Regions from separate parts of the Homo sapiens genome. Here region 1 is linked to region 2. A link means that fine-mapping ties the variant in region 2 to the expression of a gene that starts in the linked region. Tissue or cell type: whole blood. Region 2 holds a variant in brackets; the other region holds the start of a gene. All regions are shown on one strand. Distances are between the middles of the regions. Region 1 holds the start of SLC48A1 (solute carrier family 48 member 1). Region 2 holds the start of LOC124902926 (a long non-coding RNA gene).

Region 1 (5,367 bases), 31 kb before region 2:
CTTTCTTTTCTTGCGCAATCTCACTTTCCAGCACAGCAAGCTTGCTCACTGCTCTCCCATACTCCTAATATGTCCACTCATAATATTTTTGCTCTCCTCCTTCTGTCTGCTCAGCTAATGAATTCTCCCCTGACCTTTAGGTTCAGATAGCTGAAATAGCTCTTGAAGCAGTTTCGTCTCTTCCATTCTCTCTGCTTCTGCCTGGACCAGCTCTGAAGCCCCTCATCCTCTCTTGCCATGGCAGCCTTCTGCTGCTACTAATTCTACTTCCTGACATTTATTGAGTATCTACCATGTGCTAGGCACTCTTCCAGGCACTCCTCATCACAACACTTTGAAGTAGGTGTTACTGCAGTCTCCATTTTAAAGACCTGGTAATTAAAGCACTGTGGGGTGAAATTTGTCCAACTCATCTCTCTGCTTCTAGTGTTTCACAGGCAGTTCGCCTTCACTCTATTACTCTGGCCATAGTTCTAAAACACAGAATTGTGAGTTTTCTCCCCCAGCCCCAAGGGGAGGGGGACAGCCTTCTTAACAGAGCATGCAAGGCCCTTTATGTTCAGAACCTTTCTAATCTCCAAACCCGCTACTCTACCTTCAAACTTGACATTCCAGCCACAAACGACTTACAGTTTCCCAAAGCGGCCGCTTTATTTCTTCCCTCTGCGCCATCACACGTGCGGTTCCCACTGCCTGGAGTACTGTCCATCCTGGCCAGCTCTGAAGCCATCCATGGAAATGCACTCCGGACCACGGGGCTTGCTCCCTCCTCCACAGGACCAGCACTCACTCTCCACCGGCAGCTCCTAAAGGAGGGCTGCTGCTGAGCTCACAGCCTTGACATCACTTCTCATTAAAATACACACTCCAAGATTCAAAATTTAATAGGCAGGGGTGGGGCTGGGTTTATTTTTTTATTTTTAAAGAAGCTCCCAGATTATTCTAGAGTGAGGCAAATGTGCTTAACACTGGTTTACATCCCTTGTTTGGCAGTTAAGCACACCCTGTCTAGATTCCTTGTGTATAATTGCTTTTGTTTTTATTTTATTCTTACCTTCATTCACTCACACTCACCTATTCAACAAACATTTATTAAGGGGTCATTATATGCCAGACATGCTTTTAGATGTTGATGTGAACAAAACTGGCACTGTCCCTGCTCATGAAGTTTATGTTCCAGAGGGGGTGTGGTGGGTGGGATAATAATGGCCCCCAAAGATGTCCACGTCCTCATCCCAGAACCTATGAATATGTCACCTTCCACGGCAAAGGGATTTATTTTGCTGATGTGATAAAATTAAGGATCTTGCGATGGGGAGATTATCCTGGACTATCCCCTCAATCACAGGGGTCCTTAGAAGGGAAAAGGAGGAAGAGGGAGTTAAGGCATGTGGGTAGCCTCACTCTAGAAGCTGGAAAAGGCGGCCGGGCACGGTGGGCTCACACCTGTAATCCCAGCACTTTGGGAGGCTGAGGTGGGCGGATCACCTGAGGTCAGGAGTTCGAGACCAGCCTGGCCAACATGGTGAAACCCCATCTTTACTAAAAATACAAAAATTAGCTGGGTGTGGTGGTGGAAGCGTGTAATCCCAACTTCTCGGGAGGCTGATGCAGGAGAATCACCTGAACCCAGGAGGCAGAGATTGCAGTGAGCTGAGATCACGCCACTGCACTCTAGCCTGGGTGACAGAGCAAGACTCCGTCTCAAAAAAAAAAAAAAAGTCAAGGAAACTGATTTTCCCCTAGAGCCTCCAGAAACAAGGCAACCCTGATGTCCCCTTGATTTTAGCCCAGTGAGACCATTATTTGGATTCCTGACCTACAGAACTGTAAAATAATAATAAGTTTGTGTTATTTTAAATCAGTAAATTTGTGGTAATTTGTTACGGCAGCACACACACAAAAAAAACTAATGCAAGGGGTATTGGTTATGTTTTGTGCAGGTATATGATGGGCCTCCCCATGTGGATCCTTAGTGCTGTGGCAGAGCCCTTGTTATTGTGCTGGGATTTTCCCTCCAGCTCCCGGCCGGAAGCTGGGCTCACGTGGGAGCTCAGTGCCCTCCTGCTACAGATCTGTCTCTTCCTTACAATGGTATGATCCCGAGGGTCAGGGTGAGGGGTTTGGGAGGATAAGGCTTGTGCTGATAAAAGGAAAGGTGAGGTCCGTTGCAGTGGCTCAAGCCTGTAATTCCAGCGCTTTGGGAGGCCGAGGTGGGAAGACAGCTTGAGGCCAGGAGTTGGGGACCAGCCTGGGCAATATAGCGAGACCCTATCTCTACAAAAAATAAATAACAAAAAATACTAGCCAGGCGTGGTGGCACACACCTGTAGTCCTGGCTGCTTGGAAGGCTGAGGTGAGAGCATTGCTTGAATCCAGGTGTTGGAGGATGCGGAGCTATGATGGCGCCACTGTACTCCTGCCCGGGCAACAGAGTGAGACTCTGTTTAAAAAAAAAAAAGTAGGGATTTGTGGGGAGCTGTGCGTGAGGATAGAATGTATAGAATGTTTGCAGTCAGAAGGTGATGGTCGCAGGGGTTCCCAGACTTTAGTGTGTGGAGAAATCCTCTGCGATATGGTGGGAGGGAACCTGGTTGATAGAAGGACGGGCGGAAGGAATTCTATTCACAGCGTACTCTAATATTTCTTAAGTTTTACCTATTAATTTTTAACAAGAAATTTTAATTTTAATTTTAAACGAAAATACGCATCGTACTCAGAGGTAAAGATTTTTAATCCTCGCGGTTCGCTCGTATAAAGGCATATTTCCGGTCCCTTCCAAGGTCCAACAATCCGGACACGGCGGGTCTGGGGATGGGCCCAGGAATCCGCCTTTTTAGCAGCATTCCCCCAAACGACACGGCAGCTTCGCAAAGCGGCGGTGGCGTCTGCGGTTCCGGGCGCGGGCGGCCTCCGGCCGGGGAGGGCGCTGTGCGGGCGGCGCTGGGGGCGGGCCGGGGGCGGAGCGCGGGGCGCCGGCTGCTCTGGCGGCTCCCGCGGCTCCGGCTGGCGGCTTCGGGCCCTGCACCTGTGACTCTCGGCCGCGCTCGCCCTCGGCCCGCCCGGCGCCGCAGCCCCATGGCCCCGTCCAGGCTGCAGCTCGGCCTCCGCGCCGCCTACTCCGGCATCAGCTCCGTGGCCGGCTTCTCCATCTTCCTCGTCTGGACGGTGGTCTACCGACAGCCGGGGACCGCGGCCATGGGAGGGCTCGCAGGTACCCCGGGACGCTGGGCGGCGCGGGGCGGGTGCGCGGCTGCGGGGCGGGCGCCGTCAGCTGCTCCAGGACGCTCCCCGCGAGCGGCGCTTCCCCGCGGAGCGGGTGGAGTGTTTACTCGAAAACAGCGGTTGGCGGCGGCAGGCCCCACGCGGGCCCGGGCTCCTGGGCATTCCTGGGTGCCTCTGAGACCCGATGCCCGCCCGGGCGCCACCTGGGGGTGCCGACGGCCCGCCACTGCCGGCTGCACAGACCTGCCGCGCCGCCCGGGTTATCTGTCACGGCACACTGCCTGTCGCCCTCCGCCCAGTTGCCCCACGACAGTGTCCCCTCCGCGCGCCCGCGGCGCTGGTCGCCTCCTATCCCCAAACACACACACACACACACACGCACACACACACGGTTGTTCTGAGGGATCCCCTGCCCCCCAGGCGCCCCTTCCCTGGGTGCTGGGTGAGGGCAGAGAGGGAAGAAGTGGGAAAGGAAGAGGGCTAGGGGTGGCTGGGGAAGCCCATCTCCCTCCTTCCAGAGGGCTCCCCCGCAGAGCCCTCTGCTGAGACCCACAGGGAGGACGGCGTTAGGGATCTCATAGAAACTGGACATTCTCTTTCCACCCATGTTGGTGCCTTTTTGCTACCCGTCTGCTGTGGCTCCTCAGCCAAGCTCTGCCAAATCCTGCAGGCCAGCCGCCCTTTCTGTGCTTCTGGGAGGGAAGGGGAAGCATCGGTGCGCTGATGGGGGCTCTGGGCTGACCAGTGCTCCTTGTTGTGCACATTTGGGCTCGCAGTTTAACCTCTCTGCGCCATAGAATTGGTATGAAGATGAAAAATATTATCTCTACTTTCTAACATTTTAAAAAATGCTTTCTATGTGTCAGGCACTATGTTAAGCAACCTGCTTCCCTTATTTCATTTAATCCTTACATTAGTCTCATGAAGTAGGCCTTACGATTATGTCCATTTTACAGATAAGGAAACTGAGGCCTGAAGTTAAATAAATTGCTTACCCGGGATTACACAGCTACATGAAATAATATGTGTGGGAAAGGACTTTGGGAAGAAAATACGTATAATACTTTTACATATGATGATTATATTCCATTACTAAAATCCTCGGCCAAAAGAACCCTAAATGGAATAACTAAAAATAACTAATTTACTCACTGCCACAGGGAGTGCTGAGTGCCATCCCTGGGTAGAGTCGCAGCATGAGGTGGGGTTAATGCCTTAGAAGAGGGGCATACAGGGCCCCACCCTACACAATGCCAACAAAGCACTGGGTCACCAAGAAGGGGGGATGGGCACCCTGGCTAGGGTGTTCTCTGCCTGCCCAGCTGCCTCACCACCTGTGGGATCCTGAGGACAACTGGCCCATCTCTGCGCGTTATCTACAGAGCCCTAGTTCCTTTCCCCACTGCACCCCGCCACCCTCCATGTTTGTCAAGGTTCACTTCTCCCTGCCACTTTTTTGTTTCCTATTGGCCCTGTTGCTTTCCCCTCTGGAAGGCGGCGTCAGAGCCCTATGATTGCATTGCGAAGACCGAAGGCAAGAGAAGGATGAGCAGGGAGGGCCAGCCTGGGATCTCAGCTGGTTGTGTTGAGTCTGGCCTGGTACAAGTGGAGGTGAACCCTACCTGGCCGTTTGACCCTATCCTGGGCCACAGTTTCCTCATCTATTAGGAGTGGGAGGAGATGTCCCCAAAAGACATCTGACTTCCCTCCAGATCTGAAATCTTGCAGTGCTGCCCACTCCCTGAGTCTCCAGCTGCCTCCTAGAGGGCTGTGGAAAAGGCCTTCTTTCTTATACTCTAGGGAGTTGCCTGGGGTTTTCTTCCGACCCAACTCTGCCCTCTCTCCCTCCCCACAGGCTTCCCTTGGCCTATGAGGCAGGCCAGCTGTGGAGCTGCCTTCAGAGAGAGGCGCTAGGGCAGCAGCTCGCTAGGGCAGCAGCTCGCTAGGGCAGCAGCCAGCTGGAGTAGGGTCCTGGTATCTCCCTGATGGTCTGATCTTTGACAGTGGCTGTGGAAGAGCCAAAACTGCTTGGTAGTGGTGGTGGTGGATGGTGGCAGGGAGAGGGGTTGCCAAGCCTGGGCCTCCGACCTTCCCCACCATGAGTGAGTTCTCAGAGGGTCTGTGGCCAGTCAACCTTCTTCC
Region 2 (5,367 bases):
GACCTTTTGCTCACAATGTCCCCCTGCCTGTGCTGTCCTCATCCCTACATTCTACTTTTCCAAATCCTACTCTTTGCTCAAAGCTCAGCTGGAGTCCTCCCTCATCCCTGGACCCAGCCAGCGCCTAGCATCCCTCCCTCTTTTGGACTCCAATCACATGGCTGTTCCACACCAGGATTAGTGCTCTGTGGGCAGGTACCATGTCTGAGTTAAGCTCCATAGGGCAGGGAGTTGGTTTCATGCTTTGTTTATTATTCCTAGCACCTGGAATAGTACCTAGCACATGACAGGCACTCCACAAACATAGAATCAATGAATAAATCAGTGTCTCTCCTAAAATGTCCAGGAAAGTACCCTGGCACAGAGACAGAACTCATTAATGATTCTTGAACAAATGGATAAACTCATGAATCAGTGTCCTCTCATTGGGCACTGGTCACATTATTGCATTCTATTTTTTTTCGCTTTGTATTTGTGTGTGCTTCCTCCCTAACCTGCCTGTTAGCTTTTCAACAGCCAGGACTGAAGCAAGGAGGATACCTGGGTTCCATTTCTCCCTGCTATATGGAATTATTAGGCATCAGGCTGTATATCTTGCACTCAGTAGGCCCTTGGTTGATACTGGCTACACTAAAGGAAGGGCAGACCGCGTCTAGTCCAGACCTGGCCCCATGGGCATGTCCTAAACCAAAGCAGCAGCAGGAAGTCCAGTCCTTCCCCAGGGCAGCCTAGCAGCAGAGGAGGCTCGGGCCAGCAGAGGGAGGAGGCGCAGACAGTGAGAGAACACTTCCCCTCCAGCAGAGCAGTCCTGCAAGGGCTGCCATGCCCACCTTGCAGAGCCGGTGTGAGGACCGAGTCCACACACAAGAACACACCTTGCCTGGTGCCTGACATGGGGTAGGGGTCTCAGTATAAATATTAGCTTCTTACTTTCCTTCCTGTTTCACTGCTCCCAGCAAGGACAAGACGGGCATCCTGTGTTTCCTTTTCCTGTTGTGTTTCCTAGCACTGTGCCCAGCCAGCATCCAGAGCTGCCTCTCTTACCCCGGCTCCTCGCCCCTCCCTGGAGCCGCCACCTCCTGGCTCTCTGGCAGATCAGCCAGCGACCCTGCTTCTCTAACCCCTCAGCTTCTCGCGTTCTTACAGCCTTTCCACCCCTCATCTTCCACTCCCTACCATGGACTCCCCCGGGTTTGACTCTTACCTGCGCCAGTGGGGCTGCAGTAGTGGGCACCCGGGCTCACCTGGGTCCCATCTGTAGAGAGAGAGACGGAGTGAAAGAGCTGCAGGGAGGGGTGAGGAGAGGGAGCAGGAAGGAAAGAAGGTCAAGCCAGGCCTGCTCCCTGCCACTCCAAGCTTGAGCACGCCAAAGCCTGGGACCTCCACCAGAAGCTAATCAAAACGAGAAGACCCCACCCCATTCGACTCCTCCAGTCCCCCTGCTGGTGAAAAGGGCTCCCAGCTCCCTCTTCCTCAAGTCACTCATTCTAAATGACTTGAACTCAGACTACAGCAAGAACCTAAGGAGGCCTCAGCTCACCCAGCAGTGCCCTCAGCCCTCCCTCCTGTGGTCAGATACAATCTTCCCTGGGCAGCCAAACCAGGCTCCCATCGCCCGAGGGAAAGAAGAAGGCCAAGAGGTGAGGTGGGGCCAGAGGTGGGAGAGCCTGGCTGGGGGGATGGCTGGGGGGACAGGAGGAGAAAGGGAGGAGCAGGCCTGGAGAGAGGGACCCTGGCCTGCTCAGAGCCTCCCAGGTGGGAGTGAAAGGAGCAGGAGGGGACACAGAGGTTTCCAGAGTGGGGGAGGGACTGGGTCATGGCCCGGAGGTCAAGTCAGATCTGGTGGGAACTGTGAAGTGATAAGGTCAGGAGTGCACAGCCCAAGGACCCCATAGTGCAGACCCTTTTCCTCCCACTGCCCCATCCTATGTCCTGCTGCCTGTTTCCTCAGAGAAGGGACCTACTCAGCCTCTTTCCCAGATAATCTGAGATAGAAATCTTTTCTTTTGGAAATGGCTACCTCTCTCAGGCTCCTAAGCCCAGCAAGAAAACCTATAGTAGGGCCCAAGCTGGTCAGCAGCAGAAAGCCCCCAGGGGACATGGAGGCCAGCTGGGGTTGGAGAAGACAGAGATGAGTCCTGAGGCCACCTGTCCAGGACAGACACCTTTCCCTCTTGCTGTCCAGTTCAGGGTCAAGGGGACAGGAGGCCAGGAGACCCAGAGGCTGCCTGGACGGGGTACTGGGTGGACACAGAAGCGCTCTGCTGGCCAGACTTGGGGCAGAAGGGATATTTTTTGAGAAACTGCCGGGGTGCTCCTTTGGGTCTGTGTCTCAGAGGCAGCCACAGTTCCTCTTCAGAGCCGAGAAATGAGAACTTCCTGCAGGCAGGCGCTGCTGGGGGAG[G/A]GGGCAGCCTGGGCACAGGGAGACTCCCACCGACTGCCCCTCAAACCAGCCCATGCTTTGGGTAACAAAGTTCGGTCCGAAAATGCTGCTCTACCTATTTAAATTCTGCCCATCCTCTGAGGTCCAGCCCAAGTCCATCTCCTTGGGAGGCTCTCCCTGACCTCTCCCCTCTTCCTTTTCCACAGCACTCGCTCTGTGTCTACCACCTTGACACTTCATTCATCATGATCTCTGTGGTGCCCTGTGGAAGCCATGCCCATCTGCACCAAACACCTCGCAGGGCACGTGGCAGGCTCTGTTAGTAGCTGACAAATCAAATACAATGACTCTCTCCTGACAACCTGCCTGAGACACAGCATGCATATTTCTCAAGGTGGTGGGCCTCAGAGGCAAACTCCCCTCCCCACGACATGGTAACCCCCAATCCCAGGCCTTCTTAGTACCTCTTCTTTCTTCTGCAGGACCTGGTCCTCCCAGAGGTTTCTGGACTGGGCTCCAGGGTGCACTCCCAGAGACTGTGTCAGGCTGAGTCCCCTGCCTCCTGGGAATTCTGTCCCACCTCCCCAGTCCCTACCCAGGGGCTGGTCAGCAGCATTCATGCTTGGGAGCAGAGCCAGGTTCTCTGTGCCTTGCTCCCCTGGTAACCACAGATTCCGGACACCATGCACTCTCTGGATAGGAGAAAAATTAATGACCCTGAATTCTGTGGTGTGGGCTACCAGGCCCCAAAGGGATGTTTTGTGGTGATAATCCATAATATAAGGTCTGTCCAGAAAAGCTGTGTGCATGTGTGCATGCGTGTTGGCAACGGGGCTGCTTCCAATAGCAATTCCTGGAAAAAGTTCTGCTTTTCCCCCGCTCCCTGGCCCCGTGCTGAGGGCCATCAAGTTCAGAAGAGCGCAGAGCGACAGAGATTAAGACCCAGGAACAGCTCTCTTTGTGTCCTAGAGAGAGGAAAGGTATCTACTGGCACCCCGTCAGTAGCTGAACTGAAGCCAGAGCATGAACATCCTGCCTCCCAGTTCTGGCTTGAGTGTGGGACCTCTTTTCCCATCACTGCCTCTCTCCGAGGGCTGTTACTACTAATTTGGGGTCAGCCTGAAAAAAAAAAAAAAAAGAGAAGTAAATGGACCCAAGGTACCAGGAATACTGTCTAGCACAGGGCTCTTTGCCAGGTTGGAGAGCTCTTCTTTTTGGAATCCTGGCTACTCCCCTTTTCTATCTTCTTTGGAGGCAACTGCAGTCAGACTTAAGAACAGTTTACTTGGCACTGGGGCATGTGGGCCTACCAAGTCACCTTCTTAAACCAGAACACCTGATTTTACCCAGAAACCTATGGAGCCCCTGTTCCAATAGGTGCACCCCAGCCCTCAGCAACCTCCAGAGTAAACACAAACACAATTCTAAGCACCTGGAACAAACTGACCTCCCTACTGCTCCTACCTTATTGCCTCAGGCCCCAGTCTTGGTCCTCCCTCCCCAGCAGGTATGACTTTGCCTCCTAGATCTGCAAAAGGTGGATGAAAACCTGAGCCTTGCCGACCACCTGCTCTCCCAGGAGCTTCATGTCTTCAGTGGGACAAAAGGCTTCCCCAGGAGCACTGCCACCTAGAACGCCCCCCTCCCGATGCCTCCAGTGTCTTTTCTTAATTTTTTTTTTTTTTTGAGGTACGGTCTTGTTCTGATGCCCAGGCTGGAGTGCAGTGATGTGAACATGGCTCACTGCAGCGTTGACCTCCTGGGCTCAGGCAATTCTCCTGCCTCAGCCTCCAGAGTAGCTGGGACTACAGTATGCACCACGATGCCTGGCTAAATTTTTTTTGTTTTGTTTTGTTGTTTTTTTTTTTGTAGAGACGAAGTCTTCCCCTGTTGCCCAGGCTGGGCTCCTGGGCTCAAGCGATCCTCCCCGCTCATCTTCAAAGTCTTTGTTGAGGCTGTTCCCACCTCCCTGGACTCTTGATTAGCGGAAAAGGAAGCAGCAGCAAGAAGACCTAGGCCCCAGCAGCAAGAGGAAAGCAGGCAGTGGCAGAAGGCCATAGTCCTGGGTTCAGAGCTGACTCCCTTCACACCCGAGGTTGCTGTCTCTGGTTCTCCTTCCCTGACATAGGCTGGAAAAAGCTTGAGTCTCCATGGGGCTGGCAGAGAAGATGAAGGCTGGTGGTGAAATGGCTTCAGGAAGATCCAAGAACAAATAAACAGGAGAAAGAACACTGTGGTTGCCAGGCCTCCCTGACACAGAGTGGGGGCTGAGCACAGAGGATCTGCTCCTCTTCCAGGCTTTAGAGATCGTTCAGACCAACACTCTCATTTGACAGAGGAGCAAAGAGAAAGAAGGGGCTAGGTCACAGCCACCCAGCCAGCCAGTGGTCCAGCCAGGCCAGGCCAGACCAGTACAGGGGAAACCCAAAGGTCAACCCCAAATGCAGGTACTACTTCCCTGGGAAGTCACTGATCTAGGGGTTGAAAAGATGGAAATATGAGTGAAACCTGGTTCTCACTTTCAAGGAGTTTAGAATACAGCCTGCAGCCTTAAACATATTTGAACAAGTACAATACTTGCAGATACTAAAAAAAATTCAGAGAGCCCAAAAGTTGTTAGGATAAGTTTCTCATTCATCCCAGACTCCCTAGAACTTCCCTGGAAGCCGCCCTTTCTAACAGCTTCTTGTGTCTCCCTTCCAGAAATTCTCTATACTGCTCATTGATTGGCACTGAATGCTTCTTGCTCAGATTTATCCAGAACCCAGCAGGGAGCTGAGAGTGGGCTGGAAGCCCCTGCCACATGAAGTCTGGCAGGCCACAAACTGTGAGGGAATTGAAGGTCTAAAGCACACAGGACATTGGCTTTGCGGTCAGATGGGCCTGGGTTTAAGCCCCGACTCCCTCGGTGACTGGCAAAGCAAGCCAGAAACACAATTTAACCTGCTTAAGCTGCCCCACCTGTAATCAGGAGATAAGAATAC

Evidence for each region. PIP is the estimated chance that this variant, and not a neighbour inherited with it, causes the effect. A credible set is the group of variants that fine-mapping cannot tell apart.
Region 1: it holds the start of SLC48A1, and the variant in region 2 is the best candidate, but not a certain one, in a credible set for the expression of SLC48A1 in whole blood (TOPMed, PIP 0.65).

What each region holds. Positions count from the first base shown.
Region 1 is chr12:47,770,227-47,775,593 of GRCh38, forward strand. SLC48A1 (solute carrier family 48 member 1) reads left to right here and starts at 3,012. Exons shown (of 3, transcript NM_017842.3): 1 at 3,012-3,214. The coding sequence starts at 3,079. RefSeq lists a silencer at 2,878-3,487 and enhancers at 3,233-3,739, 3,740-4,244.
Region 2 is chr12:47,801,020-47,806,386 of GRCh38, forward strand. HDAC7 (histone deacetylase 7) reads right to left here. Exons shown (of 26, transcript NM_015401.5): 2 at 1,205-1,255. LOC124902926 (a long non-coding RNA gene) reads left to right here and starts at 61. Exons shown (of 2, transcript XR_007063290.1): 1 at 61-1,640; 2 at 4,256-4,614. The variant G/A (reference allele first, on the strand shown) is at 2,405.